Linked DNA regions of Homo sapiens. The protein of the gene in region 1 purifies or fractionates together with the protein of each later gene. This does not show direct contact. Each region holds a gene or a part of one and is shown on either strand. Other genes may lie near its edges.

What was found. The genes of interacting proteins can lie anywhere in the genome.
Region 2: the proteins of USP6 (region 1) and TEAD4 purify together in Homo sapiens (affinity purification with western blotting, with the first as the bait; one study listed by BioGRID). This does not show direct contact.

The regions. Positions count from the first base shown.
Region 1 is NC_000017.11:5,139,969-5,143,662, reverse strand, and holds part of USP6 (ubiquitin carboxyl-terminal hydrolase 6), read right to left. Parts: intron 2,239-3,694; coding exon 2,164-2,238; intron 1,661-2,163; coding exon 1,522-1,660; intron 1,267-1,521; coding exon 1,161-1,266; intron 1-1,160. UniProt on the Homo sapiens protein: Deubiquitinase with an ATP-independent isopeptidase activity, cleaving at the C-terminus of the ubiquitin moiety. Catalyzes its own deubiquitination. In vitro, isoform 2, but not isoform 3, shows deubiquitinating activity.
Region 2 is NC_000012.12:2,990,229-2,993,922, reverse strand, and holds part of TEAD4 (transcriptional enhancer factor TEF-3), read right to left. Parts: intron 1-3,694. UniProt on the Homo sapiens protein: Transcription factor which plays a key role in the Hippo signaling pathway, a pathway involved in organ size control and tumor suppression by restricting proliferation and promoting apoptosis.

The DNA.
Region 1 (3,694 bases):
ACAAAGGTCTCTGGTTTTCCTAGGCAGAGGACCCTGCGGCCCTCCGCAGTGTTTGTGTCCCTGGGTACTTGAGATTAGGGAGTGGTGATGACTCTTAACGAGCATGCTGCCTTCAAGCATCTGTTTAACAAAGCACATCTTGCACCGCCCTTAATCCATTTAACCCTGAGTGGACACAGCACATGTTTCAGAGAGCACAGGGTTGGGGGTAAGGTCATAGATCAACAGGATCCCAAGGCAGAAGAATTTTTCTTAGTACAGAACAAAATGAAAAGTCTCCTATGTTTACTTCTTTCTACGCAGACACAGCAACCATCCGATTTCTCAATCTTTTCCCCACCTTTCCCCCTTTTCTATTCCACAAAACCGCCATTGTCGTCATGGCCCGTTCTCAATGAGCTGTTGGGTACACCTCCCAGACGGGGTGGTGGCCGGGCAGAGGGGCTCCTCACTTCCCAGTAGGGGCGGCCAGGCAGAGGCGCCCCTCACCTCCCGGACGGGGCGGCTGGCCGGGCAGGGGGCTGACCCCCTCACCTCCCTCCAGGCCGGGGCGGCTGGCCGGGTGGGGGGCTGACCCCCCGACCTCCCTCCCGGATGGGGCGGCTGGCTGGGCGGGGGGCTGATAATTTTTTTTAGTAGAGACAGGGTTTTGCCATGTTGCCCAAGCTGGTCTTGAATTCCTGGCTTCAAGTGATCCACCCACCTCGGCCTCCCAAAGTGCTGAGATTACAGGCATGAGCCCCTGCGCCCAGCCTACTTCTTTGTATTCTACAGATATAACTATCTTAGTTATGTTGAAAATGTATTGGATTGGATGTAATTAATAAGACTCTGAGGTCCACCTTGCAGTTAGAATACTGCTAATAGTGAAGTATTACCAAAAAAGGTTTACTCTTCATATAAGATGTTTGACAAATTAGTAAAATGAATGACATCCCAAATTTAGAGTGTACCTTTGGTCTTTATCCTACCCACTGCATATACAGTAGTATTTTGCAAATATTTAAACAAGCAAAAGAATTTGGCCTCTTGTTTATACCAAGTAAAGGATCCAAAAACGTTCATTAAGCTAAAAGGCTAAACACAAAAAACAAGTAGAGAAAAATGATTAAACAACTATTTAGGAATTAAATACTTTTATATTATTTTAACCTGCTTACCCGAAGCTTTAATGGGGCAACACTCTTCTGAGTTCCACTCCAGAGTTCCTGCACTAAATCACCATAGCATTTAGCCATATGCCCCTTCATACCAATGGGATTTGTCCTAGAAGTTTGAGAGGAAAATTTGTTGCCAAAGATTCTCATAAATCACAATCATGTGGGCAAAGATGCCTAGCATCTCACATCAAAATATCTTTTCTTTTTGAAACAAGAGATGTATTCCTTGGCCTATTTCATATTAAATAGGGCAAATAAGATAAAATCTTTCTCCCGCAGGGTGAAAAAAGAGGAAATTTAGGTGATAGTGGGTTTATATCAAAGTCACAGGTTAAGAGGCCAGTGACTCAAGAAAGTTTACCTGTTGAGTTCATAAAGATGTCTCCCTGAGATAAAATACTGTGTCAGTGGCTGTGTGTTACTAACGCACTGGATGCTTGAGTTCATGAAGCATGTGTTTCCCAGGTTGCTTAGACCTGTGGCTCCCTTTTCTGTGGGAACTGGAACAAACAATATGAGAACCAAAGCTTAGCTGTAGTAATATGCCATGGCACAAACAGTTACTTATATTCAATGAAAAGATTTTTTATAACTCTCATAATCAGCTAAATGGTGCTAATAATTCTCTAGCAGGTCTTTGAAATGCTAGAGAAGGCTTTTCATGGTATGTCTGGCAACAGTGATGATCCATGCTCATTTGTAACCCAGAAGCAGCAATTATTCTTTTTAATTGCTATGATTTTTCAAAATAATTCAAACAATTATTCTTCTAGCATGTCTTTTAAAACATATAAATTATTAAATTGCAGAGTTAGAAAGAAATTTAGAAAATAATTTGATGGTGGGTTTGCCAACATCAAATGCTGCTTCAGGAAAAAAGAAAAAGAAGGGCCCTAATTACTTTTGAACTAGAAAACCAAAAGTTGTTAGCACTTTAATAGTTGAAAGAAGAAAAAAAATACATTTAAAATAATCTCTTTAAAAAATAATACTGGAGACTTACCCTTTTGTCTATCTATTTTACTACTATTTGCTGTAAAAGACATCTCCTCAGGCCAACTCATATCTTTGTTGTGAACTGGAAGGACAGATAGGAATGTGTTAATTTCTTATCTGTCTAATTTACACCCACTTGATTGCTTCTGTTTTTTTTTTTTAAAGACATCTTATTCCTAAATCGGAAGTTTTAAAATCTAGCTAATTTTAGTACATGCATTGCTTAATGATGAGGTTACATTCTGAGAAATGCATCATTAGGTGATTTTGTCTTTGTATGAACATCACGGAGTGTACCTACACAAACCTAGGCTATGTATGGTATAGGCTGTTGCTCCTTGGCTACAAACCTGTACAGTATGTTACTGTATTGAACACTGTAGGCAACTGTAACACAATGGTAAGTATTTGTGTACCTAAACATGTTAGAACATAGAAAAGGTACAACTAAAAATACAGTATTATAATCTTATGGGACCACTGCAGTAAGCCATGATTGCACCACTGCACTCCATCCTTGGTGACAGAGTGAGACTTTATCTCTTAAAAAAATTTAAGAAATTCAAGCTAGAGCAGCTGATGGATATTGAGGCCTAGATTCACTGTCAAAGTGTTTCTTAAAGGGTGCTCTCCAGAACACCATGGAAAACTCATTGACTGTATAAGTTTGAAAATCCCTGCCCACAGGTCTACCCTTGTGTATGAGTAATCAGCTCTACCATTCAGCCCAGGTGTGTGTTTACTGGACCATCTGCAGGAAGCTGAAGAGGCATGAGCTGAAGGCAGAGGGTGAGTCCAAGATGGGATCTTAGGACAGGTATGAGAAGTTAGGCGAAAATGGGACAATTATAGCCTTAATAACCTTAGATAATAGTTCACATTATTATTTAGTTAATAGGATTGTACTCCCATTACATTTCTTAATTTTTTTTAAGAGATATTGTCTCACTCTGTCACCCAGGCTGGAGTGCAGTGGTACAATCATGGCTCACTGCTTCTTGGAACTCATGGGCTCCAGCAATCCTCCTGCCTCAGCCTCCTGACTAGGTGGGACTATAGGCACATGCCACCATGCCTGGCTAATTTCTTTGACTTTTCTCTAGAGACAGGGTCCACCTATGTTTCCCAGGCTGGTCTCAGACTTCTAGACTCAAGTGAACCTGAACCTCCCGCCTCGACCTCTCAAATTGCTGGGATTACAGGTGTGAGCCACCACACCCGGCCTAAATTTTTTATGGGCCATGCTATTACAAAACGTCATTATTAGGGGCAGCTGGATGGAAGGTGTAGGAGGACACTGTAGTGCCTTTACAATATTTCTGTATATCTAAAATCATTTCAACAGGAAACATTTATTTCAAAACGTGAAGGTGGTTATCCTTCCATGAGTTTAAAGACAGGCTCATGGTGTTGTCAGAATTCAGAACGCTGGTCGTGGGGCTGGGGGTGCTGGGATGGGGCTGGGCATGGTTGGCTTTGTGATCTGGGGGCTGGTGTGTTCCATCTGTGCATGTCTTTCAAGCTGCACGCTTTCTTAA
Region 2 (3,694 bases), on another chromosome or scaffold:
AGGAGCTTTAAAAAGGAAGGCAACCGGGACACGTGCTGCAGCACAGACGGACCTTTAGGACATTATGCTGAGTGAAACACGCCAGTTACAAAACAACCCAAACACTGCATGATTCCGCTGACGAGGTATCTAAGCAGTCACATTAGGCCAGGCACAGTGGCTCATGCCTATACTCCCAGCACTTTGGGAGGCTGAGGCAGGAGGATCCCTTGAGCCCAGGAGTTTCAGACCAGTCTAGGCAATATCGGGAGACCCCATCTCTACAAAAAATTAATTTAAAAAAAATTAGCCAGGTGTGCTGGCTCGCACCTATAGTCCCAGCTACTCTGGAGGGTGAGGGCAGAGAATCACTTGAGCCTGGGAAGTCAAGGCTGCAGTTAGCCATGATTGCGCCACTGCACTCCAGCCTGGGTGACAGAGCAAGGCTCTGTCTCAAAATAAATGAATACAATAAAATAAAAATAAAGTAGTCGGCAGGGTGCAGAGGCTCACACCTGTAATCCCAGCACTTAGGGAGGCTGAGGCAGGAGGATCATTTGAGTCCAGGAGTTAGCAAGACTTCATCTCTACTAAAAATTTTTTTTACAAAATGTTCTTAAGTGGTCAAACAAATAGAAACAGAGTAGAATGGTGGTTACCAGGAGCTCGTGGGAGAAAGACACAGAGTTGTGACTTGACAGGTACAGAGTTTCGGTTTTGCACGATGAAGAAGTTCTGGAGACCTGCTGCGCAGCATTGTGAATATACGTAACACTACCAACCTGGATACTTCAAGAGGGTTAGGATGGTACATTTTGTGGTCTTTTTTACCACAATGAAAAATTTTTAAAAACGCATATACAATATAATGTAGGTCACTATTCTCCTGTTCCCTTCCCAACTCAGGCTCTTTCTGAAAGAAACAGTCTTGGCAGCTCCTCACACACTGGAGCAACGGCAGGATTGACTTTCTGGTGCCTCTGGAGGCTCATGGTCACAACCCCACCTTCCCCTAACATGAGACAAATCCAGTGACCTCTTGGCTCCAACCATCCAAGCTGTAAGCTTCCAAACATAGTTCTCAGGGGTTTGTGAAGGAGCAGGACATACCAGTAATCTTAAGGCAGTTTTTGGGTTATGAGTACCAGCTGGGAACCACGTACCTCCCACAGCCCTCGCAGAGCCCCCAACTTCTCCCCATCCCAGCCACCGAGTCCACTTGTAAAGGAGGACCTCACCGCGTCACACACATTGCCCGTCCCTTCTCCCCCACTAGCCTTGAGGAGCAATGCAGTCCAGCAGCCCAAACCCAGGCTGGGGGTCTAAACCCCTGAGTTCGACCACTTCCACCTCGGATCCTCTGAAGTGGGACCTCCCAGAGCATTCCTCGCTTATCATTGCCCTCCATACCCTCAAACCCCTCATCTCCCACCCATGGCCTGTGAGAAGGACAATTTCCTTCACAGAGAGGCACTGTGAGGGAGGGGGTGAGGATCGAGGGGAGGGAGGGGCTAAGTGTGGGAGGCACATCCCAGGAGGAGAGGTCAAAAGGAGCTTGGCAAAGCAGCTGGCACAGACATGCAGTGGGAAAGAGGTTAGAGCCACTGACACGTAAAGCAGGAACCAGCCGGGCGCAGTGGCTCACACCTGTAATCCCAGCACTTTGGGAGGCCGAGGCGGGTGGATCCCCTGAGGTCAGGAGTTCGAGACCACCCTGGCCAACATGGCGAAACCCCGCCTCTACTAAAAATAAAAAAATTAGCCGGGCATGGTGGCGGGTGCCTGTAATCCCAGCTACTCAGGAGGCTGAGGCCAGAGAATCACTTGAACCCGGGAGGCAGAGGTTGCAGTGGGCCAAGATGGTGCCACTACATTCCAGCCTGGGCGACAGAGCGAGACTCCGCCTCAAAAAAAAAAAAAAAAAAAAGCAGGAACCGCCCCCCCCAACCCCCACCACAGGAAACCTAAGCAGCTCCTTCAGCTTGCTGAAAAGGGCACTGAGGCCCAGAGGCCTAAGGACACGCCCAAGGTCGCGCAGTGAGGCCAAGGTGCAGGTCAAGGTCTTGTTCTCAGCCCTTCAGAGTCACTGGCCTTTTTAGTGTAACAAGTGTTGCCTGTTGTCTCTGTGGCTGTTAAAGTAAGTTTTCATGAGAGTTTGGGGGCAGAGTCGCTTTTTCGGGAATAAACTAGCTTATTCTCATCAGAAATTCTGGTCTTGATTCTATCCTGAACATGAAAACATTTTTCCATACTTCCAAAACAAACTTCTTTTTTTTTGTGGGGGGACGGAGTCTTGCTCTTTCACTCAGGCTGGTGGGCAATGGTACAATCTCGGCTCACTGTAACCTCCGCCTCCCAAGTTCAAGCAATTCTCCCACCTCAGCCTACTGAGTAGCTGGGATTACAGGCACACATCACCACACCCAGCTGATTTTTGTATTTTTAGTAGAGACGGGGTTTCGCCACGTTGGCCAGGCTGGTCTCAAATTCCTGACCTCAGGTGATCCATCCACCTCGGCCTCCCAAAGTGCTGAAATCACAGGCGTGAGCCATCATGCCCAGCCTGAAACAAACTACTTAAAAGAGTTGCCAACTTTAATTTCTGGCAATATAGTAGATAAGATGATTTTAAAACTCTCACTCTATAAATAAATTTAGAAACGACTGAGCAAAGCTCCCTTAGTAATGAGGAAGCTGGTTTTTTATTTTTCATCACTTTAAATTTTTATTATTTTTTATTTTTTAGAGACAGTGTCTTGCTCTGTTGCCCAGGCTGAAGTGCACTGGCAAGATCATAGCTTAGTACAGCACTGAACTCATGGGTTCAAGAGATCCTCCTGCCTCAACCTCCTGAGTAGCTGGGACTCTAGTCACGCACCACCATGCCCGGCTAATTATTTATTTACTGTAGAGATTATGTATTTACTGCAGAGGTCTCACTAGGTTGCCTAGGCTGGTCTTGAACTTCCAGCCTCAAGCAATTCTCCCTCCTTGGCCTCCCATGGAGTGAGCCACCATGCCTGGTCACAACTGGGTTTTAATGGTTGCTCAGAGATGAGACCTTAGACCTAAGAGATGCAGAGAAGCTGAAACTGGGAACTATACCTAAATCCTCAGAGAACCAGTAGAACACTGACAAAATATGACAGCGAAGATTCTCTGGGCCAGGCGTTCTCTGGGCCAGGCGAAGTGGCTCATGCCTGTAATCCCAGTACTTTGGGAGGCCGAGACAGACGGATCACTTGAGGTCAGCTGTTCAAGACCAGTCTGGCCAACATGGCAAAACCTCTTCTCTACTAAAAATACACAAATTAGCTTGGCATGGTGGCACACGCCTGTAATCCCAGCCACTCGGGAGGCTGAAGCAAGAGAATGACTTGTACCTGGGAGGCAGAGTTGCAGTGAGCTGAGATCACGCCACTGCACTCCAGCCTAGGCAACAGAGACTCCATCTCAAAAAAAAAAAAAAAAAAAAAAAAAAAGATTATCTGTCTTAGCCTAAATTCTAGATATAAAAAATAATTCTTAAAAAAAAGAATTTGTAACCAAGGGCCTACCCTTTAATGGATTTGAAATTTGAATTTTATATCGCTTAGTAACCTCTAGCCAATTCTTAAAAATAAACAGTGGTCCCAGGCTGAAAATCTCTGAAGAGATTATGTTTAAATGATTATTGACCTAAATAAGGAATTGTAAATATGGGAAAGAATAAGAT